Homo sapiens: one gene and its partner. The protein of the gene in region 1 purifies or fractionates together with the protein of each later gene. This does not show direct contact. Each region holds a gene or a part of one and is shown in the gene's direction. Other genes may lie near its edges.

Region 1 (15,754 bases):
TTTGTTTGATTCAGTGCTGTATCCATAGCACTCTGCATAAAACCTGATCCAGAGAACATGCTAAACAAGTATTTATTAACTTGCCAATTATAGGGACTACATGATAATGGTGAATGGTCATCTTTCTTCAACAAACACTATGCTAGGTGCTAGGGGCACAGCGGTGTCAGTCAGGGGGACTGGGCAGTACTCCAGAGAAGGGCAGTATATGGGTGATGGTTAAGCGCTCAGATTCGGGACTCAGACAGCCAGAGCTGGAATCTGGTTCTGCAAGACTTATTGTCCATGTGACCTTGGCCAAATGACAGCCTCTCTGAACCCCAGTTCCTCATCTATAAAATGGAGATAAAAACGATGGCTACCCAGGACAGGGCTGGGCTAACAAAAAATAAATAAAAATAAAAATAAATGATGGCTACTTTCAAGAGTTCTTACGAGGATCAAAAGAGATCATCCTATATAAATAGTTATTATTTTTAAAAACAGAAAAAAGAGAGTATCCACATAAACATTCTTGGCTTATAGCAAGCACTCAATAAATGTTAGCTGTTTCTGTAAGGAATGATTACCATCTTCAACCATGGAGACCAGCACTGCTTGCTTTCCCATTATACCTGAGAGGTCCATCTTCCCTTATTCCTAAATCCTCATCCCAGTTTTTTTTCTTTTAGATTTTCACACAGATGCACAACACTCTGAGAACCTTTCTGTATCTTGCCATCTGATTCCCACTTTTCTAAGGGATTTAGAGGAGGCAAAAAATAGAGAAGGAGAAATAAATATTAAAAAGCCCTGACACCCCACCCAGGTTCCTCATCCACATTGCAGTTAGGGGTGGCCATCCATGACAGTGTGCCTGTTGCCAGTGTGTGTTCCAGGAGTGGGCTCTGCACTTTGCTGGAAGCCAGAGTTCTCCTTTAAGCCTAAGAGCATGAGCTAGACCCATAGGGTAGGGATGGGCCAGGAGCTCACCTCCATTCCAGCATTTATCTCTGGGTACCGTAGCTAATGCTCCCTTGGCAACCATTGTTTTTTCTGAAGGGCAAGAATCTCATCATCCCACTAGTCTCTTCTGGCAGGTGGAGAAGGGGCGTGGCCACAGGCATGTGTAATTGGCCCACACACTGTTTCTTAAAAATCTGATGAAAGATTGAACATTTAAGAATTGGAGGCTGGGTGCAGTGGCTCACGCCTGTAATCCCAGCACTTTGGGAGGCCGAGGTGGGTGGATCATGAGGTCAGGAGTTTGAGACCAGCCTGACCAATATGGTGAAACACTGTCTCTAATAAAAATATAAAAAATTAGCTGGGTGCGGTGGCACGTGCCTGTAGTCCCAGTTACTTGGGAGGCTGAGGCAGGAGAATAGCTTGAATCTGGGAGGCAGAGGTCGCAGTGAGCTGAGATCGTGTCACTGCACTCCAGCCAGGGGGGAAAAAAAAAAAGAATTAGGAGAGCTGAACAGGCGTGGCTCACGCCTGTAATCCCAGCACTTCGGGAGGCCGAGGTGGTCGGATCACTTGAGGCCAAGAGTTTGAGACCAGCCTGGTCGACATGGCAAAACCCTGTCTCTACTAAAAATGAAAAATTAGTCAGGCGTGGTAGCACATGCCTGTAATCCCATCTGCTTGGAAAGACAAGGCAGGAGAATTGTTTGAGCCCGGAAGGTGGAGTTTATAGTGAGATGAGATCATGCCACTGCAATCCAGTCTGGGTGACAGAAGGAGACTCTGTCTCAAACAAAAATCAAACAAACAAACAAAAACTGGGAGAGCTTTTATATAAAAGCCTAAATAACTGGCTTCTCTTGAAAAATGGAAACGTGGTGCAACCCTGGTCTGAGCAGTGATGGCCCCCAGTAGCTGGACTTGCATTCTCACCTCTCCACAGACTTCACTTTGTTCACCTCCCCCATGTACCTGTCTGGCTTCTACACAGGCATTTGAGTTTTTAACTCTTGCTTTCACTCAGGTCTTGAGAGGTTCGAAGACTCTATGCTATTTCTTGGTCTTAGATGTGGCACCTGTTTAGCATAGGGTGCTATAAAGATAAGGCACAAAGTGATCCCTGGGGTTGAAGGGCTGTGGGTAGAGATAGAAGGAAAATGTGGCTAGGCAGGGTGGCAGATTATACACCTGTAATCCCAGTACTTTGGGTGGCTGAGTCAGGCAGATCACCTGAGTCAGGCAGATCACCTGAGGTCAGGAGTTCAAGACCAGACTGGCCAACATGGTGAAACCCCATCTCTACTAAAAATACAAAAATTAGCCGGGCGTTTTGGCCTGTGCCTGTAGTCCCAGCTACTCGGGAGGCTGATGCAGGAGGATCTCTTGAACCCAAGAAGTAGAGGTTGCAGTGAGATCGCGCCACTGCACTCCAGCCTGGGTGACAGAGGGAGACTCTGTCTCAAAAATAAATAAATAAATAAATACAGACCAGTGAATAAAATAAATGGTGAAAAATAAATGGAAGAGAAAAGATATAATTATTGATTTTGTATATGATGTAGACGATATTCTGGGAAAATTCCATTGTTCATGGGGAATATAGAGGGAGTGACTGAAATTAAGATTATTGTTTTTTTTTAAATTATTTTATTTTATTTTTGAGACAGAGTCTCTCTCTGTCACCCAGGCTGGAGTGCAGTGGCGCAATCTCGGCTCACTGCGAGATTCGCCTCCCGGGTTCATGCCATTCTCCTGCCTCAGCCTCCGCAGCAGGTGGGACTACAGGCACTGGCCACCATGGCTGGCTAATTTTTTGTATTTTTAGTAGAGACGGGGTTTCACTGTGTGAGCCAGGATGGTCTCAATCTCCTGATCTTGTGATCTGCCTGCCTCGGCCTCCCAAAGTGCTGGGATTACAGGCATGAGCCACCGTGCCGGCCGATTATTGTTACTTTTTAGAGACAGGGTCTTGCTTTGTCACCCAGGCTGGAGTGCAGTGGCACAATCATAGCTCACTGCAGCCTCAAACTCCTGGGCTCAAGGGATCCTCCCACCTCAGCCTCCCAAGTAGCTAGAACCACAGGTGTGTGCCACCACACGTGGCTATTTTTTTTCTTTTGGAGACGGAGTCTTGCTCTGTCGCCCAGGTTGGAATGCAGTGGTGCGATCTCAGCTCACTGCAGCTCTGCCTCCTGGGTTCAAGCAATTCTCCTGCCTCAGCCTCCTGGGTAACTGGGACTACAGGCACACGCCACCACACCAGGCTAATTTTTGTATTTTTAGTAGAGACGGGGTTTCACCATGTTGGCCAGGATGGTCTTGATCTCCTGACCTCATGATCTGCCCGCCTTGGCCTCCCAAAATGTTGGGATTACAGGCATGAGCCACCGTGCCTGGCCATACAAAGGTAATATTGTTTTGTGAAACTTTTGTTGCTATTGCTATGTACAAAAAAATACTGGAGATAAGTCAAAGTTTGAAGCCACTGTAGTCTAGAGGGGAGAGAATGGTTCGATGTTGGCAGATTAAGGGGCAGCTGGTGGTGAGATCTGAGATGAAGCTTCTGTGTCCTCTTTCTTCAGCTTTAGAAGTCAGTTTGGTGTTTTGGGAAGATCAAAGTTAGGTACTAGGATGAACATTCTTTTCCTAGCTCTGCTATTACTGTCTGTGTGATTTTTGGCTAATTAACCTTTCTGAGTCTCAATTTCTCCATCTGAAAAATGGTAACACTAATACCACTCATTTCACAGGGCTGATGTTCTATGATTTGCTCCCGGCTAATGGCCTTGTCTTATTCATGTTATTACAGTATTTCTAGTGGTTCCCCTATCCCCGCTTCCTGCCAGGAAAGAGGAAAAAGGGAATTCACCTGTAGCATTTAGTGTGTCAGACGCTGTGCTGGGCACTCAGCATGATTTGGTTGAACATGGAATTCCAAATTCCCAGTTTCAACTGGGAATTTACAGTGGTGGTCTGTAAAGTGCTGACACAGTGTTGCAGCAGTTTTCATTCTATTGTTAAGACTTTCATCCAAGATGCAGGCAATTCCAAACATTCCAGCTATCCAAGGCCATTGAGCATGCTGCCAGGGGCCCCTCAGCCCAGAGACCCAAATTAGGGGTGCTGGTGGTGCCACTGCGGGATGAACAGGGAACATGAGTTTCCCTCTAATCCTCACAGCTTCTCTAAGCAGCTCACAGGATTGCTCCTTGGGAGTCCAGGGCTTCTCAAGTTGCCCAACTGGAATGGGAAGAAACACGCCCTGAAGCCCTGGTGTGGCTAACTTTGCCCCTCCCAATCCCCGTGGGCAGGGCTGGCAGCACCGTGGGAATGTTCCACTTGTCAGCGCCTGACCCCCACAAGGGTCTAGCCCTTTGAGCCCCACACCCAGGTAAACCAAAGCCCAGGACTGAGGGTGCAGTTACCCTGGATCTCAGTTGGGCTGAGTCATCAGAGAGGGATTCCAGGACAGGAGAGGAAGAGCAGATGGGAGGAGGAAGAGGTATTTATTAGTTACCAGGTGGCTCCCAGGACCCAGACCCAGCTTCCCAAGAACAGAAACCCAGAAATGAGCGCCTGGTCAAGGTGTAAGCTGTTCCCCAAGGGCAGCCCCGACAGCTGGGGCTAAAGCAGAACAGTGAGCACAGAAGTCCACCATAAGGGACCAGCTCAGCAGTAGACGATAGCATAGGAGGGGTTGCTGGTTCCCGGGAATTAAGCAGGGCAGGGAATGGGGGAGGATGGGTTTATCTCACCTGTGGTGCCCACCCATTGTGGAGGCTCCCTCAACACCGTTCTGAGCCTCCTTCCTGCTTCATGTGGTCAACCAGATTCTTCTTTGTCCAGCCCAAAGCTCCATCCTCAGCCAATGGTAGCCACAGAAACTCAAGGCCATTTACCCTCCCTTTCAACAAATATTTGTGGAGCGTGTGCCACGTGCCTGGTGCCAAGGAGAGAGACATTACTTCTTCCCTCTAGAGGCTTACAATCTGGCAGGAGAGGAATATGTATGGGGAGAGTGCAGGGACACCGCGGAAAAAAGACAAATACTGAGTTATAAGTGTTGTAATAGGGGGTAGTAACAAGACGTTGTAGGACTACACAAAATAAAACAAGGAGGCCAAATCGCAAGCGTTTGTGGGTTTCACAGGGGACATCTGACAGCAAACATTCCAGGGCACCGAGAGATGGTGAGGAGAGATGATGGCATTGAATTGGAGAGATGAGCTGAGATGGACTGCGCAGAGGACGAGGGAAAGCCGGTGCACTGGAGACTGGGGGAGACGAGAGGATCCACCGGGTTGGGAGGGGAAGGGTGGTGGTAGAAGCACGAGCAAGGCAGAGACCGGAGGCCAGGGCGGAAGGGAGGCTCACGGACACCTGGAGCCCTGAAAAGTTGTCAGAGGCGGCGAGGGGGTGGGGAGCGGACCCTACACGTGCGCTACGTGCTGCGCCGGCCGCTGGGGAGCCCGGTCTGCCCCCCTCATCCCAGAACCCGGTCCCAGGGCAGTTGCACGGCGCCCAGGGGGAGGGGAGGGAGGAAGTCCCCCCAAGTTTGCAACCCGGCAGCGTGGTCTTCGCAACGCGGTTACCGGAAGGAACGCGAGGAGCGCCTCATCACCAGGCGGGTGTATCTAGGGGCGAAGGCTGCAGATCTGGGGCGCAGGCTGGAAAGTGGGGTGCAGCCGGTTGACGTGAGGTCTGGGAGTTGGATGGACCGAATGAGGATGGAGACACCTAGGGATGTGTCCGAAGGATCTGGCGCTGCACAAATGAGGGCGGTTTGGGGGACGGAGGCCCGGGCGGGGGCGGAGTGTTGTCCAAGAGTAAGGAGGGGGTTCCTGGAGACGTGGCACTCGGAGCGGGGCTGGGTTCCGCTCCGGCCGCCTGGGCTGCAGCTCCGCTATGGCCTAGGAACCCGAACCTGACCCCGCCTAGGCCTCGCACCCAGCCCTCTGGGAGCTCCGGCCCCGGCACCTCCAGGCTGGGGTTGCCCAGGTCCGGCCTCTGGGGCGTCCAGCCGGCCCTAGACGAGACAATGCGGCCCGGGCCCCGCCCCCGGAGGATGACGCGCCCGGCTGCCGGCCAGTCAGCGCCCGTGGCTAGGCTCTTTAAAAAAAGAAGGGCCGGCGCGGTGTGGCTGTCAGCTGGGAGGGATCCCTCCGCCCATGTAAACATCATAAAGGGCAAGGGGAGCGTCTGTTGTGGGCGGGGGAGCGGCTGCCTTCCCGGAGAGTCCTCTCGGTCCCTAGGTTCCCCTCAAGACGCCGGCAACCGCCCCGTCCCTTAACGTCACACCGGGTCTGCTGGGAGCCAAACAGCTGCGGCCTGATCTGGGAGCGATAGAATCTCATCACTTAGGGTCACTACCGGAAATGGAGGAAGCCGGACTGGGAGACCTTGAGAGTTGGGAGCGAGAGGGAATCGTAGGACGCAGCTGAGAATTGGGAAAGATTTTCTTAGGCTTGTTCTTCCTGTCCATCTCAGTTAAATAATAATCATAACTCATGTAAGTCTAGAATTTGTCTCAAAGTTATGCCTACCTGGCTCGTAGGATGCCAACGTTAGGAGTGAAAATAGTCAACGCTCTCCCGAGAGAGCACATGACACTACATGAGCTTCATCAAGACCCTCGGAGGCCCAGAATGCGCACCAAAGAGCCATCGACGATAATTCTTCTACCCAACTTTTATTTAGTATTATTAAATATTCAGTAAAGTTAAAAGAAATTTGCATCAAATTCCTCTATACCCACTACCTAGATTCTATTATAACTTGCCACATCGCATATCTATCTTGCACTGATAATTCTTTTAATAGTGTATTAGCTGTCCCCTGGGCTTGACTCTCCATTGCAGTAGGGAGCAGGAAAAGACTCCAGGTCCCAAAGCCCTGGAGAGCTAAGAAAAGGAATACGTTCTCCCAGGACCACTGTGAACTCTTTCCTGGGCCCGGTACCTCTGGGAAAAATTTGTTGAAGGGAAGGCGGTTTTCTTCTCCCCCCACGCCCATCCCCCCTTTTAATTGAAGACTTCTTAAGCATAAGAGATTTCCTTCCACTAGGTGAATCTGAAAGCGAACTAAGATCTTGACAAACATTCCTTGCATACGTTTGGCAGCTTTCTGGATGAAAGAGGTCATTTCAATGTTGACGTTCTACTTTTTGAGCTTCCTCCTTTTTTCTGAGGCTGCTGGACACTACCCCCCCACCCCCGTCCCCCGTCTCCCGCCAAAAGAAAAAAGGCGCCTCAAAAGTGTTCGTATCTCTTAAAGTTCGTTAACCTCTTTGCCTCCGTTGCCTGCTCTGCAAAATGAGGATAATATCGTACCTACTCAATATGGTGGTTGTGAAGACTCAGTGAGCTAATACATGCAGAGCGTTTAGAGCAGTGCTTTACACACAGTAGCATTAAATAGCGGCTATCACCCATAAGCACATAACTCCCAGATTTATATCTCCAATTCTGATCTCGCCCCTTCAGATTTATACCCTTCAGTCTGTTGAAGGATACCCCGTTGTGTATTTCTACCTGTATGTACCAGAGACACCTCAAATTCAAAATGTCCAGAAATGAACACAGTATCTTCTTCCCTTGAGTAACTCGCCTTCTGTATATAATTGGGGTGAATGTTCCAGCAATGCCAACGGGCTAGCATCTACTCAGGCAGGTACGCCAGACATCTGAATCTTAATACCTCGTCGTCCCCCCTCAATCTGTCACTATGTCCTAATTTTATTTCCTACCTTTGCATCCCTTCCTCATAATTATCAGCACCACTGCCTTAATTTAGATCCTATCATTCCTTGTCTGGATTATTTCAAGTCTTTCGCCCCTCTCAAGTCTGACCTCGTCATAGACTGTTTGTGGATGATTATTTTCCCTGCAACATCTCCACCTCCCAATAGTCTCCATCACTTATTAGCCATGTGAATTATGGCAAATTGCTTAACCTACCTATGCCTCACTTTCCTTATTGTAAAGTGGAAATAAGAGTACCTATCTCATAGGGTTGTGTGATTAATCATGCGATGCAATTAGAACAGTGCCTAGGATATGAAAGTGCCCCAAAATGTTACGTTATTATTATTATTACTACTATTGCCTTCTCATGAACATGCTATGTGTATGTTCAAGCTGTTATCTCTACTGGAAAATCCTTCTCCGTTTCCAATACTCTTTCCAAAACCCCCTCCTGGGTTTTACTGCACCTACCATTGTGTACTGACGTGATTGAATGATTGGCTTATGGGACTGATCCTTTCTACCAGACTTAACTTCTTCAGGGCAGGAACTCTGATACATAGTAAATGGTCAATAAAAGTTGGCTCAACTGAAACCCTAAGGATAAACTCCATCCACAGCGGAAGGCGCGGCCCCGCCCGATTCGGGGGCGGGGCGGGGAGCCGCGCGCGGAGGGTGGGTCGATGGGGGTGGGGTGGGACTCTTTTTCCTCGCCGTGGCGGCGGAGGCGCACGGCGTGGGCTTGCGGCGAGACGTCGTCGTCGGAGGCTGAAAAAGCCCAAGGTGCTGCCGTTGCCCGTACAACTCGGACTTGCTGTTGCTCGAGCCGCGTCTGCACGGGTCTCGGACCGAGCGGAGCTCGCAGCCTCGGTCCCGGAGCCCACCTTCGCCTCGCCCTTGCCCAGCCTGCGGTGATGGAGGCGGCCACCACACTGCACCCAGGCCCGCGCCCGGCGCTGCCCCTCGGGGGCCCGGGCCCGCTGGGCGAGTTCCTGCCTCCACCCGAGTGCCCGGTCTTCGAACCCAGCTGGGAAGAGTTCGCGGACCCCTTCGCTTTCATCCACAAGATCCGGCCCATAGCCGAGCAGACTGGCATCTGTAAGGTGCGGCCGCCGCCGGTGAGTCACGCCAGCACCCCGGATCCAGCTCGTGGCTGGGGGAGGGAGCGGGGACGCGCGGGTCCGGGGAGGCCCGAGGCGCGGGGGGCGGGGAGCCGGTCGCCCCGCCGGCCTCGTCAAGTTTGGGGCTGCCTAGAAGGTCGGAGTTGAGGCCGGGGGAGGAAGACGGGGGCTTCTCCAGGGTGGGAGATGAGGAGCGTGGGAGAACCGGGGGCTTCGGCGGTGCCATGGGAGGGCCGGGTCGCCGCGGGGCTCGGGCGGCCGGGTGCGGAGGTTCGGGTTCGGTTCCGGATGGAGTGATGGCAGGAGCCGGGGGTGGTCGCGGGGGAGTTTCCTCACGGAGCCTGGCGGAGGCGCGGGCTGGAGGGAGGACTGTGGGCCCGGCGAGGCTCGGCAGGCTGGTCCTCGCCTCCGCTCCCGGGGTGCGGGGGTGTGTGATGGGGTGGGGTGGGGGTGGGGGACTTGCGAGTTGTCGTGCGAGGAGGAAAGTTTTCAATATGGCGGCGGGAGCCCCTGGTCCTTTGTGTGGTGGCGGCGTCGGCCCGGAGCGGCCCTCACCTGGGCGCCCCACCCTCCAGACCAGGGCACCCCTCCACCGCCTGGTCCCCGGGCCTCCAGGTGTCCCCCGGGCCGGGGTCAAGAAGGGGGCGGCCAGCGCTGGCTGGGGGCGGGGAGGAGCCGCGGGTCCAGCCCCGGAGCGGATGTTTGTGGGGGGCGTTAGTGTCTGGGGGACACTTTTGGGGCGGCGGGGGCAGGACGGGCGGCGGTGGGCCCCGATGCCCGCCCGCGCTCCCGAACGCGCACACTCCCGGCTTCTTCTGGCTCAGCCGCTCGGCTCCCCGGGGAGGCCTGGGCTGTGCTGGTGGGGATGGGGTCCGGGCGAGGCCGTGTTTGTAGGGGAACGTCAGACGGAGAGACCTCCGAAGATTTCGTGCTCGTTTCCCCCGGCCCTCAGGCTCCGGGCACTGAAAGGCAGTCACCCACCGCAGCCCTTCCAGCCCTGTCTACAGCGCCTCGGGCCTGGGGGCAGTGAGTGAGGGGTGGGTGTTGCTGAAACCATCCGTAACGGCTCCAACGTTCGCTGAGGAGAGCCCGGCCAACTCCTTCCTCCGTGGCCGGAACTGGGTGCGCTCCTACACCCCTGTTTTTTTTGCCCACCTTTCGGGAGGGTCTGAGTCCGAGTTGGCCTAAGCGGCGGTTGGACGGGCTGGGACCGTTGGGAAGCGGGTTTAACTGCCTTTCCTGCTGTTTAAGAATCTTCTCCCCACTCTCTTCCCCCACCCCCACTTCTAAGTAGAGGAAGACCCCTTCCCACCCCTTTCTCCCTTAAGCTTGCTTTTTGTAATGACATTTTGAGTTGTAGGGATTCTGTTTGTAATCGTTATGTTTTGGAAAGCTGTTTTCAGGGAGATCCCTGAAAATAAGGCTTCTTAACCCTTCCCTGCCCCAAATTAAAACACGGACACCTACTTTAGTTTTTCTTAAGCAAGTTTGAAAATGGAGATGAAATACATGCTTCAGAAAATAACTGGCCAGCGAATATGAGGGAAATGTTTGAAAATAGATCCATTTCTTACAGCGAAGTGGGCAAGGTTGATTCTTGCTGCTTAAGGGAAGTACGTTTCTCTTAGTGCAAAGAGGCCTGCAGAAGTTATAACAGGGCTGGTTAGAGCCAAGGTTTTAATTCTTGAATAATAGGTCATGTTTCACACTGTAGTAATGTAGCTTCATGTCACATGCTAGGAAGGGTGAATATGAATATTGCACATTTGCATAATGGGATTTTATTCAGAAATTGGGTAACTTGACTAAGTTCTTAGTAACCAAAACGTGGGGAGTCAGGTTCCTGGGAGGTGTCCTCCATGTTGGTATTGTGGTATACCAGGGCTGGGGTAAATCCTTTATCTTGTTTTCTTGTTCTTTGCCTTTTAGAGGGCCCTTTTTCTGAAAAGATAGTGTTGCTCTGGTTAGGCTTGGCTACCCATTTCCTCATCTTGGCTAGAATATTAATGGTAATCTTTGCAAAATGTGTGATCGAATTGCCTTTTTCTCACTCTGAATGTCAGACAGACATGATGGCCACCATTTTGTATTGAGAGTGCTACATAGTACAGCCTGAGGAAAGGGGTTAAAGAGGCACCAATAATCTACAAATACAACCAGTACTCTGTTTGGAGACCTCCTTTGTGTGGAGGGGACTTGCTTCCTCCTTTGTTTAACAAACTCCTTTGCCAAATGGAAAGAGTTTGAGAGTATTTGTTGTTGATATAACCACAAAAAGGGAAATCTTTCCAGAAGTTGTAGCTCTTGAAGAGGGGTCTTGTTGGAACAAAGGCTTCTTAAGAGATGTAAACAGTCTTTGTTTTAGAAACTGTTTTGTTTTTGGGAAAGCTAACTGTGAACAAGTGGTTTCATATAGTTGATATATAGCAACAAAAAAACCCTTCAAGAAGTGTGAAATATTTTCCATGGTGATATATATAATGTCTGTATTTCTGGATGATTTTTGTTCACCGAGTTTTTGGAACACAAATGGTTATATTAGAAGGGGAATTGGAACTATTGGTATTTTACTTGTTAGAAGGTAAGGAGAAGTATAAAACATTTCTGTCTCCTTTTGTTCTTACCTTTGTATCTTTACCAATGGTACTTAATATAGTTTCAGTTTATAGCTGCTTTCTCAGTGAGACTCCCAAACTGCTTGGCTTCTGAAAACTTAGAGTACTTACATTATTTTGTATATGGCAGCTTAGGGGTTCTCAGAAATTTGAAAATATAGTAAGATAAATGTGAGAAAACGTGATTAAGTCAAGAAGACTATACTTCAAATCTGAGTTTGAAGTTTAATACAAACCTTTGTTTCAAATTATATCAACTATGTAGGATAACCAGGCTTGTTTTCTGGACCAAAACCTTCTTAAATTTACAATTCATCTGGCTTCTGGTTTTGTCACCTTTAAAATGCAAATTTTTAATTTCCTCCATGATACTGTACTTAGATGTCTGTTTAAGGACAAATGATATTTTTCCATATCACTTTGTGGTATTTGGAGATGAGTAATTTTAAGGGTGTAACTATTAGGCAGAAAAATAGTTGGCTGCTCAGTAAATACTTTTTTGTCTCCCAAATTTTGATAGGAATATATTTATGGCTTTAGTAACTTATTTTCTTGCTTTCAAATGTCTCACATTTGGCCATAGATAGATTCCACAAATTTCTTTTTTTTTTTTTTTTTGAGACGGAATTTTGCTCTTGTTGCCCAGGCCTGGAGTGCAGTGGCTCATCACAACCTCTGCCTCCCGACCTCAGGTGATCCATGCGCCTCGGCCTCCCAAAGTGCTGGGATTACAGGCGTGAGCCACCGTGCCGGGCCTAGATTCCACAGATTTCTTCTTTGTGTCCGGAGAAGGTTTAAATCAAACCCCAGAGGCCACAAGAGACAAAAATTTTTCAGCTTTAACTTCTTGTGGTTACTAGTTTGATTCCTTCATCTTTATAGCCAAGTGTAAAACTGCCCTTAAATGTTTTAATACAGTCACCATTTTTGAGTGAGCCTGTTGGTTCCACTCCTAGAGAAGAGGGAGGAACTTATACACTTCTTTGTATGGTAGAAGTGTTAATGATATGGAGCTCATTTACTCCCTTTCCAGCGTATCATTCTCCCTAATTTGGGGTTTGATCGACTTAGGCCTAACCCTCTCTCTGTTTTCCCTATTTCTTTGGTGTCATGAAATCTTTCCCTACTTGTATCTTTGGCCACTTTAAGCCTTTAACGTTTAGAGAAGAGGCTTATCAGTAGAAACATCCTTGAGCAAAGGAAGAACTTATAACTACTTAAAAAAAAAACCCTTTTATTGAAATATACCATACAATTCACGAATTTATGATGTGTAATTCAGTGGTTTTTGATATTTTCAGAGTTGTACAACCATCACCACAATCAATTGTAGAACATTTTCATCTCCCTCAAAAGAAACCCTGAACTCACTTGTAACTACTTTTTTTTTCCTTTTTTTAAATTATACTTTAAGTTCTAGGGTACATGTGTACAACGTGCAGGTTTGTTACATATGTACACATGTGCCATGTTGGTGTGCTGCACCCATTAACTCATCATTTACATTAGGTATATCTCCTAATGCTTTCCCTCCCCCCTCCCCCGACCCCTAACTACCTTTTAAGACAAATTTAGGACTATAATGCCCAGGAGAAAAACCTGGTAGGAGGTTGGATTAAGTCCTACAGTTCTAGGCCACAAATGTCTACCTTTTTTTTTTGAGATGGAGTTTTGCTGTTGTTGCCCAGGCTGGAGTGCCATGGCGCAACGTCATGTTGCTCACTGCAACATCCGCCTCCCGGGTTCAAGCGATTCTCCTGCCTCAGCCTCCTGAGTAGCTGGGTGGGCATGCACCGCCACGCCCGGCTAACTTTGTATTTTTAGTAGAGACGAGGTTTCACCATGTTGGTTAGGCTGGTCTTGAACTCCTGACCTCAGGTGATCCACCCACCTCGGCCTCCCAAAGTGCTGGGATTACAGACGTGAGCCACCGCACCTAGGCCACAAATGTCTACCTTAAAGCTAAAACAAACTTCATTTGTTGTAGTTATTGAATGGGTGTTTAGCTAAATTTGACTTTGCCAGTGGTAAATTGGGCACATTAGTAGCCACAAACATATCTACCCAGTTGTAATTCTTAGTGAACTAATAAACAAAACGTGTAGACTTTAAGAATGTAATGTGAATGATATTGCAAATATGAGTCAGCTAAAGATTTGAGTCCCCACCCCCACTGGAAAAATTTCCTTCCCTTCCTATGGTTATAGGGTATGGTTTTAAACATGCAATCTAAACTTTTAAAAGAGCGAAATGAGTAGAGAATTACCTTTGAAAAACATTAATAAACATTCTCTATTAAAAGCCAGGGCCTGAAATTTCCTTTTTTTTTTAATCTCACTCTGTCATCCAGGCTGGCATGCAGTGTTGCAATCAAGGCTCCCTGCAGCTTCCACTTCTTGGGCTCAAGTGCTCCTCCCTCCTCAGCCTCTAATAAATTGTAGGGATGCGGTTTCTCAGTATGTTGCCCAGGCTGGTCTTGAACTCCTGGCTTCAAGCAGTTCTCCCGCTTTGGCCTCCCAAAGTGCTGGGATTACAGGCATGGGCCAGTGCACCTGGCCTGAATTATTTTGTTGAGACACTGATAAGAAAAATTAAGAGAAAATTATTAAACCTTAATTTTATTCTTTCTCTGTTTCTAGGGTAATTTTCTTTATGACCTGTTGGCCTAGACTTAGAGTATTAGAGTATTTCAGGTTGATAGATTAGTGAAAAATGTGTTTACTGGTTTACATTTATAAGTGGGTAGAAATCTGCCAGTGGGGGAATTTTCTCTTGGGTAAAAAAATACAGGGCTGGGCATAGTGGCTCGTGCCTGTAATCCCAGCACTTTTGGGAGGCCTAAGTGGGCGGATCGCTTGAGGTCAGGAGTTCAAGACCAGCCTGGCCAACATAGCGAAACCCTGTCTCTACTAAAAATATAAAAATTAGCTGGGCATGGTGGCAGGCGCCTGCAATCCCAGCTACTCGGGAGGCTGAGGCAGGAGAATTGCTTGAACCCAGGAGGCAGAGGTTGCAGTGAGCCGAGATCACTCCATTGCACTCTAGCCTGGGCAACAGGCTCAAAAAAGAAAACAAACACAACAACAACAACAACAAACAACAACAACAAAAAAACAGTGTAAACTATTTGATTAAAAAAAATGAACCCTGTTTAAATGCTGTAATGGGACCTTTTTGTAGACTTTTGTAACCTTTCATTGTTGCCTTAATTGGACCCCATTAAGGTTGGCTGTAGAAAAGGATAAGGGAAAGCCCGTGCCCCTAAAATGAAAGTGCTAATTAGGTTTCTGGTGTTCAGGGTTTTTTGAAGCCTATGCGTGTACTTCTTTCCAAATGCCATCTATAGGTTTGAAAAACTACTAACCTAGGAGTACCTTGCTTTCATCCTTGGACAGTCCTCTCAGTGTTGAGATTGTTGTGCAATTTTTTTTTCTCTAAGAGAATTTGGTATTTTCTAATATACCTGTTATAGTACAGATCATTGGCAGCCTCAAAAAAAAAAAAAGATGGAATGAAGGTTGGGAACTGGAGGGCTACACATTCTCAAATTTAAGTTTGGGTCTCTTGAAGGGGACTCACCAGAGGGCGTACCGACAAGTCTCTTTGGGGTGAGTGGGTGGGTGAGTTGATACCTTGGGAAAGCCATATTCTTAGGCTGCTGCCATTGACTTTTGATTATTTAAAGTTTGAGATACTAATAACTGGATTTATAAAATCCAGATTGTGAGAAACTTGTTTTAGACATAAGAATGGTATGCAATTGAGAAGTATTTCTTAAGTATTTATTAACTGCTGTGTCCTTGCATGGGATTAAAGAGGAAAAATTAATATGAAAATTAAATGAAAATTGTAAATAAAAATTAAATGAAAAATTAAATTGTACACTTCCACAAATTCATTCAGAAATGTTTCTTTTTCTGTCATTATTAGATGAATTCTTTGAATTTGCTTTTTACAACCAAGTTTATGAACCAGATTAATGAAGAAAAGATGTCTCTAGGACAGTGAGGCATTTCAGTTCCATAATTGTAGGATGTTTGGAACAAAGATGCAGAATTTGACTGGAATGCATTCTTTTAAGTCCTCTACCCCCCACCATGATTTAAGACACTCAGTCCTTTAACTGTAGACCATCCTTCTTAAAGCACCATCAGCATATATCTTTACACATGGCCTTAGAGTCATCCCATATGTGCTGCTGCTGCTTTTTTTTTTTAAGCATTTAAGCTTTCTTTCGGATATAAAAACTAATCATTTTGTTCTGCCAGACCCGTCACTTCAGGGAGTAAATTAAAAAATTTTATTACAAAAAATGTGAAGCATACACAAA
Region 2 (16,258 bases), on another chromosome or scaffold:
CGGGCCAGGGACCCGGGACGCACAACCGGACGCGCGGGGGCCACGGCCCGGAGCTGTGCGTCCTGGGCGGGAGGCGGACTCGGGCCTGGAACAGCGTCCACACACGTGCACAAAGGAAGTGGAGAATTGAGGCAATCATACGAGTAATGAGTCCTTTTGTCCGCCCACCCACACGCGCACGCGTTGCCAAAATATCCATATTGTTTAGTGCTTTGCCCCGGATTTATCCAGCTCACTGCTTCAATTCTTCACTCCCTTTGCGGCCCCCGACACCACCGGCCTTTGTGGATTCCAAAGCGTTTATCCAGTTCTCCCCAACCCTCTCCTGCTAAGCCCGAACTGCAAAGCAAAACGGACGGAAAAGGAATCTTTTATGCCACAGCGGTTTGTCTGTTTTTCTCTTTTCCCACTTCATTTGCTGCGCCCGACCTTTACATGTGAGCGGAAGCGGTGTTCTCGCTCTTGGGCACTAGGGGAGCAGACTGGGAGCCAGGAAAGTCAAACGCTGGCCTCGGTCCGGCCTGGGGAGCCGGGGAAGCCGCAGGAAGGAGGCGGTGGGCCGGGAAGAGCCCTGCGAAGGGAAGAGCCAACCGAAGGGTTGGGAAGGCGCCCCGTGGGGACGGACGGAATAGTTGCAGCCATCGCTCCTAAAAGGCGGGAGGCGTCCAGCTAAAGATCTCTCCCGGAGGTCGGCTTTGGGGGGGTGGCTCGACTGCCCCGGGAAACCCATCAGTTATTAAAATAGTAACATTGAGCAGCGCTGGGTATTTGGACCCCAGAATGAAGCGAGATTGCAGTGTCGATTAAATGGAGGGAAGTGCCCATAGAAATCTTTGCTTGTCAGCCCTGGAGTTTCAGACCCCTATTAGGCTGGGCAGCTTCCTGTACCAGCAGCCAGACTGTCCACTGGGGGAAAGTACATTAGCATCCTGCGGAGGAGCCCACCACATTCTACCACCCGTCGACACCCCCCCGCCCCCCCCAACACAGGGAAGGTGTAAAGAGCCCCAACAAATACTACTTAGGCTTCTATTGGCAGAGGAGAAATGAAACACCCATGGTCTCCCCAACAAAGACAAGGTAATAGGCGAAGGCCAGAGGTGGCCCTTTTGAAGACAAGAGCTTCTATTAGTCACCAACTGTGTCCAGGGTTAGCAGCAGCAGCAGCAACAGCAGCAAGGAAACCTTTCCATAAAGAGCTGCGTGGCTGCACCCTTGGTTCTGGGGCTGATGTTCCATAGAAATAAATCATTCCTGAAGCACTAGGAATTTTAGGCAAGGAAGCCCTTTTCCCGTTCCCATCTCACAGTGTTTCCTGCTGTGGTAAGGCTGAAGGAAATAGAAGCTGGTAGTGGGGCAGGTGTTAGGAAAGCGGGCTGTGCTACCAGCGTCCCTAGGCTTGTGGCCAGACACCTTCTCTGGGTGTAGGAGCGCCGAGTGCACACCATGAAGAAAGTTCCGTGGCTCGCTCCTGTTCTTTGGGACCCTGCAACAATGGTGGGGTGCTGGGCCTGGGCCAGACACCTGCCTCTCTCTAGCCAGGGTAACCTGGGGGATTTCCTGACACACACAATAACTTGCTGCTTGGTAAAGAGGATTTTCTGACCCAGGACCCAAATACCAAGGCTGGGCCTAAGACTCAGAATAATCCACTGTGTTCGGGGCACCCAGTCCCAAGCCTGGGGGTAAACCCCACGCTTAGATAAACCAGGCCCCAAATGCAGCGTCTGTGCTCTTTATGTAAAAAAGCTCATGTGAGATGCACAGATCCCACCAGGGCTGGGTTCCCCGCAGTTTAGCAAGAGTGTAGATGAGCTCAGAATCTCCCAGACACGACCCCGGTGTCTCCAATTACATAGTTACATTTCAACAGTTCCAAGCTTGTCCGGAAAATGATTTTATTCCTGCGGGAAGGGGTGCAGATGGGGGCAGACGCTGAGTCTGTCCCTTTAGAAGGAGCTGGAGCTGAAGGGACAGAGAGCTGGCTGCGCGGCGCCTCTTCCGAAACACCTGAGCATAAGCAGCCGCAAGGGCGAGCGCAGGACGCGGGGCGTGGACGCCGGGCTGGGAAGAGCCCCGACCAAACCCGCGGGTGGCTCTGACTCTCCCCTTCGGGAGGAGCTCTGCGCAGAGGCCGTGGCTCGCGCGGGCAAGTCACCTGTGGCAGCCTGGCAGGGCAGTTCTCTCCGGCAAATAGCGACATGCTCTCGGTTTCTGTCGGCCTTGGCCTGGCAGAGCCGCTTTCCGCTTTCTGGCCTCTGGTGCGCCCGAGGCGGGAGAGGAGCCCCGGCCGCGTGGACCCTAGCTTGCGCGGCAATCATCGCGCCTTGACTCTAGGCCCGGCTGCTCAGGGAAGGACAGCCCAGGGCGCGCCCAGCGAGCTTCAGGGGGTACGGAAGTGGTTAGGGCAGATTTCAGGGTGAACAACTAATATTTTACTTACCAATTCGTTAAAAACAAAGAAAACAAAACCAATCGCGGTGGCAAGGCCAAGAAGAGTTGGAAGGCAAAGAGCTGATTTCAATTTCTGTAACCCGACGACCCTCCAGGCACAGGCCCTTACGAAGTGGGGGCAGCTTTGTGGATTTTCACTTCCCTTGGAAATGTCCAAGCCCCGGCAGGAGAACGCTCCCAGTAAAGAGACGGGAGAGCGCAGCTCCGGATGAGAACTCAGGAGCCGACCCGGGCTTGTCACTCACCTGTGTAACTTAACTGGGATACGGAATGGGGCCTCCTCTTTATTAACCCAGAAAGGTAGGCATTTTGGTCTGTGTGCCCAAAAGATGTCTACAGACACTAAAATTGGAAGGAAAGAAAGGGAAAAGGGCAACATAAATTCTATACATGATCTTTACCCATTTTAAATATGACACATTTCTAGAGATTAGCCACAGGATATCAGTTCTGACTGATTTTTTTTTTTTTTTGAAACGGAGTGTCACCCTGTCGCCCAGGCTAGAGTGCAATGGCGTGATCTCGGCTCACTGCAAACTCCGCCTCCCGGGTTCAAGCGATTCTCCTGCCTCAGCCTCCCAAGTAGCTGGGATTACAGGCGCGCGCTTCCACTCCCAGCTAATTTTGTATTTTTGGTAGAGACGGGGTTTCACCATGTTGGCCAGGCTGGTCTCGAACTCCTGACCTCGTGATCCACCCGCCTCAGCCTCCCAAAGTGCTGGGACTACAGGCGTGGGCCACGGCGCCCGGCCCAAGAGGAGTTATTCTAAGAAAGTATTTACTGTGAGACAAAAGTAGATGGATACCATCTTTGTCAACTGGAGAAAAATCTGGGATGGAATTTATGGAAAATTCATGCAATAAATGAATAAACCACAGTTATGGGGTGCCTGTGAAAGACATAGGACCTGGAGCATGGTCAGAATTGTAGCAATAGCAGAACCTGATTGTTCTGGTGCTATTTGGTGCAGGGGGTGGGAGTGGGAAAATGGGATTCTCTAATCGTGCTAGTTGGTTTTGTGTTTGGGGTGCCATGTTGCCAGGGTGGCACCAGCAGCTGTAGTAATAATAAACATCTATACAGATCGCTATGGGTTGCAAAGAATGCACATACTGTAGCTCATTTACTTTAAGGGACTTGAACAGCTAGCTGTGCAACTTGGGGAAAATCACCTAACCTCTCTGAGCCTTGGGTTCACCTTTGTAAAATGGAAAGGTTACACAGACTTTAAGACCCCTGACTCCCCTCCAGGGAATGTAGCTAGCCAATGGGACAGTAACTCAAGAGGAGCAGAACCTTTATTTAAGCTCCTTCCCTTAGCCACATGAAACTTACCCTGTAGGACTTCCTAGGAACATATTTTCATGTGGCAAACAAAGGTCATTCCAGGCACGAGACAATGGTGAGGGAACAAATGTTCATTGAAAGTTCTCCACGCCAAAGCCACGTGGTAACAGTTGGCTGGTGCTGCCCGGGGAGCCTGGGCTCCTAGCATCAAGAGGTTTCCTTTGGGGTGGAAGTTCTGGTTCCCAGTAGGGACACCAATCTTTGAGACCTCCAAGTCACTCCCTCTTGTGGATTTAAATCATCCTCTGTCCTCACCCACCACAAAGAATGTGTTATACAATGCCCAGTGTCCACAGGCCCTAGTTTCAGAAGAAAGGAAGAAAATGGGCAACGACTATTTATTTGCCTAACTTTTACCCAATGTACCAAACCAGATTTCTGTACCCAAATATTACCCTTTCTCCTGAGGCTCTTAATTTTCCTTGATCTCTTGGATGTGAGAATATATTTTGGATAGAGAAGCATAAAAAAAAAAAAAAAGTTGTTCCCTGCCTTGGATCAGAAATCTTGGTGGTCTCTTCACAACAAGAGTAAAACAGCTGGCTTTTCTTATCCCATTATCCTGCAGCCTGGTCCCTGAGTGGTAACATGTTAGCCCACAATGACCTCCCAATTAATTCAGAAACCTTTCCTCAGGTAGAGAGGGTCAGACACCCAGTTTGCTTGGGAAGAAAATATGCTTCACTCCACTGGGCAAGGAGACATCTGCTTCTGTGAATGAAGCCTGGGCGGCTGTAGGCAGCTGCGGCCCCTCCCTGCTGTTCAGGATGGACATGTTGGGATCCACTGTGGCCTGATGGGGCTGGACAGGTGGCGGACTCTCCGGAGGCCCTACAGAAAGGACGATGTCATTGATTTCCTTCCCAGAGATGTTAGCTGAGTGGGCTGTGGCAGGGCAAGGCAGGGTTGTTGGGGTCAAACCAACCATTATTGAGCCTTTCTTTGTGTGAGTAGATGGCTGATTGAGTGCAATGGCTGAAAGACTCCCTAAACTCCAAATTAAGTAGAGATTGAGCTGTTTTTCCACATCAGTATAGATGGCCAAGCTGAATAATTTTGAAAGCTGACATTCTCTTCCTTTTCACTCCTCCTTAATTATCCCTGGAATTCAGGTCAATGCAAGGTAAGAGTTTCCTGTGCAAGGTATAGAAGGACTATATTATTTGGATAGTTTTATTTTCCTTTTTTCAAATTAAAAAAATTTTTAGAGACAGGGTCTCCCTCTGTCACCCAGGCTACAGTGCAGTGGCACAACCATAACTCACTGTAACCTCGAACTCCTGGGTTCAAGCCATCCTCCAACCTCAGCCTCCCAAGAAGCTGAGGCTATAGGTGCATATCACCACACCCAGCTAATTTTTCAATTTTTTTTGTAGAGATAGGGTCTTGCTATCCTGGGCTCAGGTGATCCTCCTGCCTCAGCCTCCTAAAGTGCTGGGATTACAGGTGTGAGCCCCTGTGCCTGGCTGGACAATTTTCTTGATCTAAAAAAGATTCAGAAAGTCAACCTACATACTAAGGTGGATAGAGATGGCCTGCCCTAACTGGGTTATGTTAGCCAATGGGCTCCCCAGTTTCCAGGAGCCACAAATATCGGGCAGAGCATGGTCCCCTTAGTCAGAGCAAATATTAGGACCTTTGAACAGGGAGGGAGCTGTGTCAGTGATGTCTGGATTTCAGGAGTTTTTCATCTGCTTGGAGGGGCAGCCCGCCCTTCCAACAGCCTCCTGCTTCCCACCCCCTTTGTGGCCCCTGCCCTTGCCACCAGCCAGGATCCTGCATGCCTGGACCCTCTCTGAAGAATGTGGAATGGCCTCTACTCTGTCAGTAACAGAGGCATCCTTTTGATAACCTGATCGTGGCCACTCCTGCAGTTTTACTGTTGCTTCATTTACCAGGGTCTCTTTTTTTCCCCACCCTTTGCTGCCCTTAGATGTCAGCTCTAGCTCTGGCTCTGTGGGGTTGCAGTTTCAGCCCTAGGCCAACCGCAGGCCCAAGCTTCCCAAACAAGTTTGCCTCTCCCAGAGTGAGTTGCTACAGGCTTCTCTGGCCCAGCAGCAGGACTTACAGGGTAGAAGGGCCCTTCTGGCATCGAGGGTTAGGGATGACCATCCCTGTCCCTTCCTGGGGGCTTCTCAGTGCAGGCCAAAAGGCTCCTAAGAAAGACGCCAAGCACCTGGGGCCTAGGACTAAGAAAGCCCTGCATGGGGCCTTGATGTGGGTGGCTTCTGCCTCCTCCCAGGGACACAGGCCTGCACTTAGAAGCTGGAGAGGCTGCCCCTGAGCAGAGCGAATCTCCAGAGGCCAGTCATGGGGCACCAACCTGCTAGGGGCCAGGGCTGTCTAAATGCCAAGACAACCAGGCTCCTAGAGTTCTGTCAGCCACCTTCTACCCCTCTCTGACTGCTCCCACAACCCTGCCTTTTCAGGGACCCAGCTGGGCCCTCTCCTGGCTGAGAGCAACCAGGATGTATGGGGACGCTTACATTCTAAGAAGCTTGTCCGAGGACATCATTTACCAGCTCCTTTCCCCTCACCGAACAGGTCTAGACCCTGGGACCACAGCTGTGCCATGCCATTGCTAAGGAGACCCATTTTTTGCAATGAGGGAAACATTCGTGTTCACAATGATTTCCTTTCCATGGCTGGAGCACTCCAAGTGAGCCTCGGGCTTCCCTGTGGCTTGGCCTGCTCTGAGGCCTGGCTTGACCTGAGGGGCCAGAGCAGCCCTGGCCACTCCCAAAGCAGTTGGATGAGCAGGCCAGAGCCACGTCTTCAGGGCACAGCACAGAGACACAGCTGGAAAACAGGGACAATTAGCCAGCGGCCGGCAGCCTGGGCCATAAAAAAGCAGGAAGCGGCCACCGCAGGGCGGAGGGAATGGCTGTCCCTAATAAAGCGATTGTTCCAAAGAATGCCCGCATTCCGAAGACATAGGCTGGAGCCTCAGCCTCGGCTTCCAGAGCTCAGGCCTGGGAGCGGGGATGGTATGGGGGATGGAAAGGGGAATTGTGTCTCCAGGAAGAGGAGGAAGATGTTTGCTAGATCAAAAGTTCGAAGTGCCCACCACTTAACCTCCCACATTCCCACCCCATCAGGTCTGCGGACCTCCCCTACTGCCCTTCTCTCAATGATTCGGATTTTGTAACGGGGTTTGCAATTTGCTTCCGGTTGTATTTCTCAGGAAGTCCGATGACACTCGGCTGTCCAGGCCAGGCGCTGGAAGTCCCCCAGGAGGACCAGCTCGGTCTCCCACCTCTTGAGTGCACAGCTCCTTGGCCCCTGAGTACCCCACCACCCCCATTTCCAGCCTTCTTCCTTACAAACACGAAGGGTGGGAGGAACCAGAAAACAGGGGATCCCGCAGCCCTAGGCTAGTTCTGATCGCTTTCAGGTGTCTGCAGAGGCAAGTTGCTGGTTGTCACCTGTAAAATGGGGAGGATAAAAACACCTCCCAGATTTTGTTCTAGATCCTAGGGGGATGTGAGGCTCAAGGGAGATAAAGGACACTGGAGAGCACCCTAGAAATGACAGGATGAAGGCGATGGTGACAAATATCCGAGCGAAACGCTTGACAATGAGAACAGACAAGTGCAGGTCTCCAGGAGTGCCGCGAGCGCCCGCGGGTTCTGAGAGCGCTCAAAGCCGCCGAGTCAGGCTGCCCAGCCCGCCGGGCCTCGCCGCAGTGATCCTCATTCCCGAATCTGGCAGCGCTGTCAAAGGCTTGTATTAGGAGGTGAACGGCGGCCGCAGGCCCACTCCACGCGGTTGCTGAAACCGAGCTGGGCGCGCGCGGGGGCCGAATCTCGCCGCCTCCGCGCTCCTGTCGGGGCAGCTCCCGATCCCGGGCTGCGCGGCTTCGGTCCCCAAGACGGCCACTTCCAGCCCTAGGCCCCTTGGCCGCAGCGCTTCCCAAACCAAGAGAGATCCTTTCTCAACTCAGAGCTTTTCATTAGCAGTCGTTAATAATGGCCCTGAGTTGCCTTATCATCTCCTGGAAATGAGAAATAAATTTCTTCGGAGAACGTTTCCCTTTGTAAAGGACAGAGAGTTTTAAAGATACAGGTATGATGTAAGACACATAAATACCTAGGTAAGCATTAGCAGAAATTCTCTTTTCCTTATATTTAAGTATAATAAACATACAAGTGTAGCTCAATGAATTTTCACAAACTGACATTCTGTGTAACCAGCAGCCTAAGAAACTGCTTTACCAACGATCCCCTAGCTCGCCTCCAGTTATGCACGCCAATAACCACTAGCCTAACTTCTACCACATGCCCATTACTTCTGTAGTTTAAAACTTCTGATTCTTGAATGTAAACGTTTAACAATAAATCGCTTGAATTTAACTCAAATTTCAAATGTAAGATGAAGTCAGAGATGCAGCCTGAATCTAGGATCATAATTTGTCTTGTGCGGAGGGCGAGTAATTTCCTTGGGCAAGAAAATAACTGGAGGTGACAGTTGTTTGGGGCTGCAGTCGTCCGGGCCAGGAGCACAGGGCGGGAAGGAATGGCCCATCTCTTAGGGCTCTCTGCTTGTCACCTACCAGGTTGGTCAGAAACGTTCTCATCAAAGCAATGGTTCTCTTTTCTTTTCTCTTTGGGACAGAAGGAGTTTCTTGACCGCCCTCTTCCCTGCAAATGCATAAACAACCACTGCTCCTGTCTCCAAGCTCAGATTCCTACCAAGATAGCCTTTTCTCTTCCCCTCTCTTTTGTAAGTCTCTTGATTTCATTCTTTGAACCTGTGATTGGAGGTTAAAGTGCACCAGGTTGGAAGGAGGAAGCTCTTAACAATAAAGGTTTGAATATTTAGCTGTGTCAGGTCGCTGCCCTCTCACGAGCCTCCCTCCCCTTTATCTTTTAAAATGCAAATTATGTTTCGAGGGGTTGTGCGTAGAGTGCGCGCTGCGCCTCGACGTCTCCAACCATTGGTGTCTGTGTCATTACTAATAGAGTCTTGTAAACACTCGTTAATCACGGAAGGCCGCCGGCCTGGGGCTCCGCACGCCAGCCTGTGGCGGGTCTTCCCCGCCTCTGCAGCCTAGTGGGAAGGAGGTGGGAGGAAAGAAGGAAGAAAGGGAGGGAGGGAGGAGGCAGGCCAGAGGGAGGGACCGCCTCGGAGGCAGAAGAGCCGCGAGGAGCCAGCGGAGCACCGCGGGCTGGGGCGCAGCCACCCGCCGCTCCTCGAGTCCCCTCGCCCCTTTCCCTTCGTGCCCCCCGGCAGCCTCCAGCGTCGGTCCCCAGGCAGCATGGTGAGGTCTGCTCCCGGACCCTCGCCACCATGTACGTGAGCTACCTCCTGGACAAGGACGTGAGCATGTACCCTAGCTCCGTGCGCCACTCTGGCGGCCTCAACCTGGCGCCGCAGAACTTCGTCAGCCCCCCGCAGTACCCGGACTACGGCGGTTACCACGTGGCGGCCGCAGCTGCAGCGGCAGCGAACTTGGACAGCGCGCAGTCCCCGGGGCCATCCTGGCCGGCAGCGTATGGCGCCCCACTCCGGGAGGACTGGAATGGCTACGCGCCCGGAGGCGCCGCGGCCGCCGCCAACGCCGTGGCTCACGGCCTCAACGGTGGCTCCCCGGCCGCAGCCATGGGCTACAGCAGCCCCGCAGACTACCATCCGCACCACCACCCGCATCACCACCCGCACCACCCGGCCGCCGCGCCTTCCTGCGCTTCTGGGCTGCTGCAAACGCTCAACCCCGGCCCTCCTGGGCCCGCCGCCACCGCTGCCGCCGAGCAGCTGTCTCCCGGCGGCCAGCGGCGGAACCTGTGCGAGTGGATGCGGAAGCCGGCGCAGCAGTCCCTCGGCAGCCAAGGTAAGCAGAGGCTGCGCCCCTTCGGAGGGTGCTTGGGAAGGCGCGGGTCGAGCCAGTGGCTGCTGCGCGTCGCGCGTCCAGTGCGCACAGGGGCGTCCCGGGCTGTCTGGGAGCTCGGCGCCAGGAGGGGCACGGCCCGGAGACAAATTCGGGGGCCTCTGGCCCGTCGGGGCTTCTCTGACCTACTGAGCCTGGGAGTGAATATTCTGAGTCTCAACACCGTGTTCAGGCGTCCTCTTTCCAAGAGCTCCTCATTCGCAACCCCGGGACACCTTCGGGAAGCTCCGGGGAATGTCGGCGTGAGCACTGCTGGACGCCGGCAGAATCGCGTCCTCCGGCACTTGCTGCGGCATGCATTCCTTGCGTGGCTCCTGGCCGCCGAGGAGAGAGGGAGGCTCGAACCTTCTTGGGCTAGGTCTAGGCCATTTATCTCCGCTCTCTCTTTCCCCATCTGAGCCATCTAAGAAGAGAAGTGACCTGGGGGGGTCGGAGGATGGCTAGGCTGTGTGTGGGACCGGGTTTGGCCACTCGGGCCAATTCAAGGTACAGCGAGCAGGCAGACCAGGGAGAGCTGCTGTCGCTGGGAAGAAGGTGCTAGCCCCAGCTGCTAAGGCGACGGGGGCGCGCCCCGTCTCTGAACCTCTGACCTGTGAAGGGGTCATTTCAAGCAAAAGCTGGAAGGCTAGGGGCAAGAAGCCTAGGGGCAGGCGTCTGCGGAGAGAGCAGGGAGACGGGGAGGAAACCCTGGTGGGAATTAAGCCGCCGCTCCAGGTAGGGGTCATTTCTCCCAAAGCTTCCTTTCAAGGGTGTCAGGGATGTCTGTGAGTGTGTGTGTGCAACTGAAAAAGATCCTAGGTTTGCCGGACTGTGGGGCTCATTGACTCTGGGTCTGCCCCTTCTGGTGTTCGAGTGTGCCTAGAGGTGGCAAGGAAGTGCGGTGGGGAGAGTCCTAGTTGAGTGCCCCTTTTAAAGTCTTTCCCCAGCCCTCAGCGCTTCCGCTTTTCTTGCTTCGCTCCTTGATGCCCCAATTGGGCAGGCACGCTGGTTATGGGCACTTTGCAGAAGTTTATAGCCAATTACAACTGTATAAATCAAAGCGCCCTTTGGGGGCTGTCTCTGGGCATCGGTTTCTGCGTCACTGTGCACATGCTAGGGAGAGTCCTGGTGGGAATGCCGCCGACCGGGGAGAAGGCCACAGATCAGCCTCGGGTGAGCCTCAGAGCTTTGGCTTGGTCCCTTCTCCTAGAGGAGGCGCCTTTCTCCTAGCAGGGGCTCCCAGATCCTGGCTCCCAAAGACCCACTTTCTACAGCCCCTGTCTGGGGCGCGGTTGGCGGGGGTGGCGCACGCCCTAAGGAAGACCTTTGCGTGTCCCGGGAGAGCGGCCGCGGGGTGAGGGCCGGGAAGGGGGCGGGAGGGAAGCCGCCAGAGCCCAGGCCGCGGGGTCAGCAGATGAGAGGCCGCTGTGAAGTCCTGCGCCGAGGTGGCAAGGCCGCAGTCGGCGCCGGGTGCCCTTGTGATGTTAATGTGGGGTGGCCGCAGCCCGCGGGCCGGAGCCGGGCTCCTCTGCGGAGCGTCATCTGTCAAGGTGTGGGGGTGGAGGGGGGGACGCGGCCTGGCTTGCTTTGATATACACCTTCCCAGCCCTGCCATTGTCTCTTTTAGGGCCCGGAAAGAGGGTGGTGACTTTCGCAGTCAATAATGAATTCTGACAAGTCCCTCTCATCCCTCCCCTCCATAGCCCCGCTCCTAGGTTCCCAGGGGGTGTGGGGCGCCTCCAAGGCCCTTGGGGCATGGGTCGAAGAGCGCTCAGGGTCTGGTCATCGCGTTGCCCGGCACGTCCGGGACACTGAAGGGGCAGCACCCGAGCAAGGGTCGCTCCGAGACACTTCCAGGCGAGTCTCCCTCCCGGGGTGTTCGGCTGAGGGAACTGCCCTGCGCCTCAGCTCCGGAGGTGTCCTCTGTGGCTCCAGCCAGGCTCCGGTGCCAACCCCGCCTGATACTATCTGCGTGACCCGGTCTGATTCTCCATTTCCTCATCTGTAAAAAGGGGCGAGTACCAATGGCAGCCTGGAGTGGGTTTGAGGCGGTCACGCGTGTCCGAGCGTCCACCGCGGAGAAAGTCGCGTTAGTTCCCTTTACTTTCATAGCAGGCGCGGGGTCGGGGCCGCAGCCCCATTCAAATGCGCCTGCAGGGTCGTGTTTATGTTAATGCGCCTGGCGGGGAGGGGGATGAAAGCCGGGGCCGCCATTTGCTCAGTAGTGGTAATTCAAACAGAATGTGGTTGTTATTAAGGCATTGAAAGGGCTTTTCTTTGATAAGATCGCCTTGTCCTGCATTGTTTGCGGCTGTGTTGGCCTTTCAGCGGCTCGGGGGAGCTCCCTCTGATCAGGCCTGTATCTTCCCAGGACGCTTTTGTTGTGGTTTGCAAAGGGTTTTACCTGAACAAAGTCAGCCTGCGGGGCATTAAACACCTCCAGGCAACTCCCAGGCCCTTCAGATCTTTCTGTGGGATTGGGCACTGGGCGATTGAACCTGTTCAGCTGCAAGAAGACCCAAAAGTGGGACGGAGCCAGAGAGAACAGCTTCTGGCCAGGGCTCTGCCAAGGGCTGAGCCAAGACAGACCTGGTGGAGACGCCAGGCTCGGGCCTGCTCCAACATTGTGGACACTATTTGTCAAGGCCCTTCAGTAAAACAATCAATCTGGGATTTAATATGTTGACTCAATCCAATGAGCATAGATCACTGGTCAGGATAACTCTGGCCGGATTTGCAGCAGGAATAAATGGAGGATCAAAAAAGAAAAAGTACCAAACGCCAAACCTGGTCTGGGCAGGTATAAAGTGTCCCCAGCAGGAGGGGTTTTCTGCCTGTTCCCTCGGCCAGAGCCCAGCTCAGAATTCCACCTGATGGGCCTGGTGTGTCTGGGGGATGATTCTGGCGACTTGTCAGCTCCTGAGCCCCGCTTTCCACTTGTAGTAAAGCAAAGTAGTAACCCCCACACCCCCTCTACAACATGTGCCCACAATGACAGCTGTTTTCGGGGTGGGCTTCCATCTCTGGTAGGCCTGGAAATCTGGATGCTTCCAGGATCCCGGCCACTTCACCCTGCCCCCTTTCCCTTGGTGTCAAATATATGCCAGTACTGTATTTGGTTTACCGAAAGGGTGGTTACATTCTGCTGTCTTCTGTGTGAATGAGGTTTTCACTTTCCTTAATTTTTAAAAACCACTTAATACCAAGGTTAGTTTAGTTGCCTCCACTAGCCTCATACCCTCCCCCCACAGGACCCTCTGGGGGGTCTTGTCAGACTTGGCAGGAACCAGCCAAACCCGGGCCCCCCAGGGTGGTGGAGGAAGAGAAATGTCCCTGGGTTAGGGAGGTTTGTCATTACCCATGACTGATGGGCTGCCTTGCAGTTCTCAGCCCTCACTTCTCCTTCCTCCACAGTGAAAACCAGGACGAAAGACAAATATCGAGTGGTGTACACGGACCACCAGCGGCTGGAGCTGGAGAAGGAGTTTCACTACAGTCGCTACATCACCATCCGGAGGAAAGCCGAGCTAGCCGCCACGCTGGGGCTCTCTGAGAGGCAGGTGGGGACCGCCTAGCTCCCTCCGGGCGGGCCACTGCCTGGCAGAGGACCATGAGAGTTAGAAAATCTGGCTGCAGGGGCCATCTAAATCTGTGGAGAGACTGAAGCAGGAGGATGCAAGCATTCGTCTTTGGAGTCCTTTTTTTTTTTTTTTTTTTTTTTAAACAGAGATGGGGTCTTGCTTTGTGGCCCAGGCTGGAGTGTAGTGGCACAATCATAGCTCACTGCAGCCCTGACTTCCTGAGCTGAAGGGATCCTCCTGCCTCAGTCACCTGAGTAGCTTGGACTACAGGCTCGAGCCACCATGACTGGCTAATGTTTAAATTTTTTGCAGAGATGGTCTCACTGTCTTACCCAGGTTGGTCTCAAACTCCAAATGCTCCTCCTGTCTTGGACTCCTAAAGTGCTGAGATTACCGGTGTGAACCACCATGCCTGGCCTGGAGTACATGCCCCCCCACCCGCCACCGTCGAAACGCAGTTTCACTCTTGTTGTGCAGGCTGAAGTGCAATGGCGCGGTCTCAGCTCACTGCAACCTCTGCCTCCCGGGTTCAAGCGATTCTCCTGCTTCAGCCTCCCAAATAGCTGGGACTACAGGCATGTGCCACCACGCCCGGCTAATTTTGTATTTTTAGTAGAAATGCGGTTTCTCCATGTTAGTCAGGCTAGTCTCGAACTCCTGGCCTCAGGTGATCCACCCGCCTCGGCCTCCCAAAGTGCTGAGATTACAGGTGTGAGCCACTGTGCCTGGCCCTGGAGTACTTTTTTAAAAAGCCTCCTTCTACCTTTAGTCCTCTTTTTTTGATGTTGTTGATTTTTTCTGTCTCTCTCTTTTGAGGGATATAAGAAGTGTGAAAAACAGCCAAGGGTATTAGTTTAATCCAGAATTCCATTTGGGTCTATAAAGACATATTAAAGACCTATTCTCTTTGTTTCCAGCACTGTACCTAAGAAAATAAACTGAATAAAGTACTCAGTCTCTCACAAAAACTAGAGGGACAAGACTTGGTTCATGAACATTTTATATATATAGTCTAGAAAAACAGGCCAACTTCACAGCCAGGAAGCCACAAAATTAAATCTCATTTTCAGCTCTAAGGTGAGGAAAATTACGTTTTAGTTTAGCCTTGAGGGGCCAAAGGTTGCCATTTGAAGTATACCACCCAGCACTGGCCTCCCTTTGCTGTGTAGAAAGGGCCTTGCAGTTTCAGTTTTCCTTGGTTCTGAGACTTTAAACTTTTGCAGTAAATACGTAGATAAAAGTTGCTTTGAAAAGAAACTCAGGGAGCAAGGAAGGAGGAAGACTCTTCCCCATGAGGCTGAATTGGGCCTAAGAATGGATCCAGGGTTGGGCTGTTATGGGGATGCCCGAGGAAAGCTTCTAGAAGGACTTGGAGTTCTGTAGCTGGAGCAGAAGATGTTGATGATACTGCTGGGTACTGTTCCTCTTTTCCCTCACATCTTCACCACAATGTGCTTTTCTCCACCTTTCCATTTCTAGGTTAAAATCTGGTTTCAGAACCGCAGAGCAAAGGAGAGGAAAATCAACAAGAAGAAGTTGCAGCAGCAACAGCAGCAGCAGCCACCACAGCCGCCTCCGCCGCCACCACAGCCTCCCCAGCCTCAGCCAGGTCCTCTGAGAAGTGTCCCAGAGCCCTTGAGTCCGGTGTCTTCCCTGCAAGCCTCAGTGCCTGGCTCTGTCCCTGGGGTTCTGGGGCCAACTGGGGGGGTGCTAAACCCCACCGTCACCCAGTGACCCACCGGGTTCTGCAGCGGCAGAGCAATTCCAGGCTGAGCCATGAGGAGCGTGGACTCTGCTAGACTCCTCAGGAGAGACCCCTCCCCTCCCACCCACAGCCATAGACCTACAGACCTGGCTCTCAGAGGAAAAATGGGAGCCAGGAGTAAGACAAGTGGGATTTGGGGCCTCAAGAAATATACTCTCCCAGATTTTTACTTTTTCCCATCTGGCTTTTTCTGCCACTGAGGAGACAGAAAGCCTCCGCTGGGCTTCATTCCGGACTGGCAGAAGCATTGCCTGGACTGACCACACCAACCAGGCCTTCATCCTCCTCCCCAGCTCTTCTCTTCCTAGATCTGCAGGCTGCACCTCTGGCTAGAGCCGAGGGGAGAGAGGGACTCAAGGGAAAGGCAAGCTTGAGGCCAAGATGGCTGCTGCCTGCTCATGGCCCTCGGAGGTCCAGCTGGGCCTCCTGCCTCCGGGCAGGCAAGGTTTACACTGCGGAAGCCAAAGGCAGCTAAGATAGAAAGCTGGACTGACCAAAGACTGCAGAACCCCCAGGTGGCCTGCGTCTTTTTTCTCTTCCCTTCCCAGACCAGGAAAGGCTTGGCTGGTGTATGCACAGGGTGTGGTATGAGGGGGTGGTTATTGGACTCCAGGCCTGACCAGGGGGCCCGAACAGGGACTTGTTTAGAGAGCCTGTCACCAGAGCTTCTCTGGGCTGAATGTATGTCAGTGCTATAAATGCCAGAGCCAACCTGGACTTCCTGTCATTTTCACAATCTTGGGGCTGATGAAGAAGGGGGTGGGGGGAGTTTGTGTTGTTGTTGCTGCTGTTTGGGTTGTTGGTCTGTGTAACATCCAAGCCAGAGTTTTTAAAGCCTTCTGGATCCATGGGGGGAGAAGTGATATGGTGAAGGGAAGTGGGGAGTATTTGAACACAGTTGAATTTTTTCTAAAAAGAAAAAGAGATAAATGAGCTTTCCAGATTTCAGATTCTGTATTTATCTTCAGATTTTGTCTGCAACTATTTTTTATTTTTTAAAGAAATGAAATATCTTCTCTGCTTGCAAGCTGATTTGGAAAATTCAGAGAGGGAGTGGAGATTATCTGGACAGCCTCATTTTACCCCAGAGCATCAGAAGCCTGAAAGAGCAGGTTCTGAGACCTTCCCTGCCCCCAAGCCTGAGCCCAGCCTTGGAATGCGTGGCTCTCCTGGGGGTGCCTTTGGGCAAAATGCACATCTGAATGGCCAGGTGCTTCCCAGCAGTCAGAAATTATGGGGGGTGG

The links.
Region 2: the proteins of KDM5B (region 1) and CDX2 purify together in Homo sapiens (affinity purification with western blotting; 2 studies listed by BioGRID, with this or other methods). This does not show direct contact.

What each region holds. Positions count from the first base shown.
Region 1 is NC_000001.11:202,801,154-202,816,907, reverse strand, and holds the start of KDM5B (lysine-specific demethylase 5B), read left to right. Parts: upstream 1-8,486; 5' UTR 8,487-8,602; coding exon 8,603-8,806; intron 8,807-8,898; exon of another isoform or gene 8,899-8,945; intron 8,946-9,608; exon of another isoform or gene 9,609-9,931; intron 9,932-15,754. Other genes in the region: uncharacterized protein LOC124904583, read left to right, coding at 5,349-5,873. UniProt on the Homo sapiens protein: Histone demethylase that demethylates 'Lys-4' of histone H3, thereby playing a central role in histone code. Does not demethylate histone H3 'Lys-9' or H3 'Lys-27'. Demethylates trimethylated, dimethylated and monomethylated H3 'Lys-4'.
Region 2 is NC_000013.11:27,961,840-27,978,097, reverse strand, and holds the start of CDX2 (homeobox protein CDX-2), read left to right. Parts: upstream 1-8,782; 5' UTR 8,783-9,091; coding exon 9,092-9,632; intron 9,633-9,804; exon of another isoform or gene 9,805-10,651; coding exon of another isoform or gene 10,652-10,841; intron 10,842-13,058; coding exon of another isoform or gene 13,059-13,082; coding exon 13,083-13,228; intron 13,229-14,728; coding exon 14,729-14,983; 3' UTR 14,984-16,258.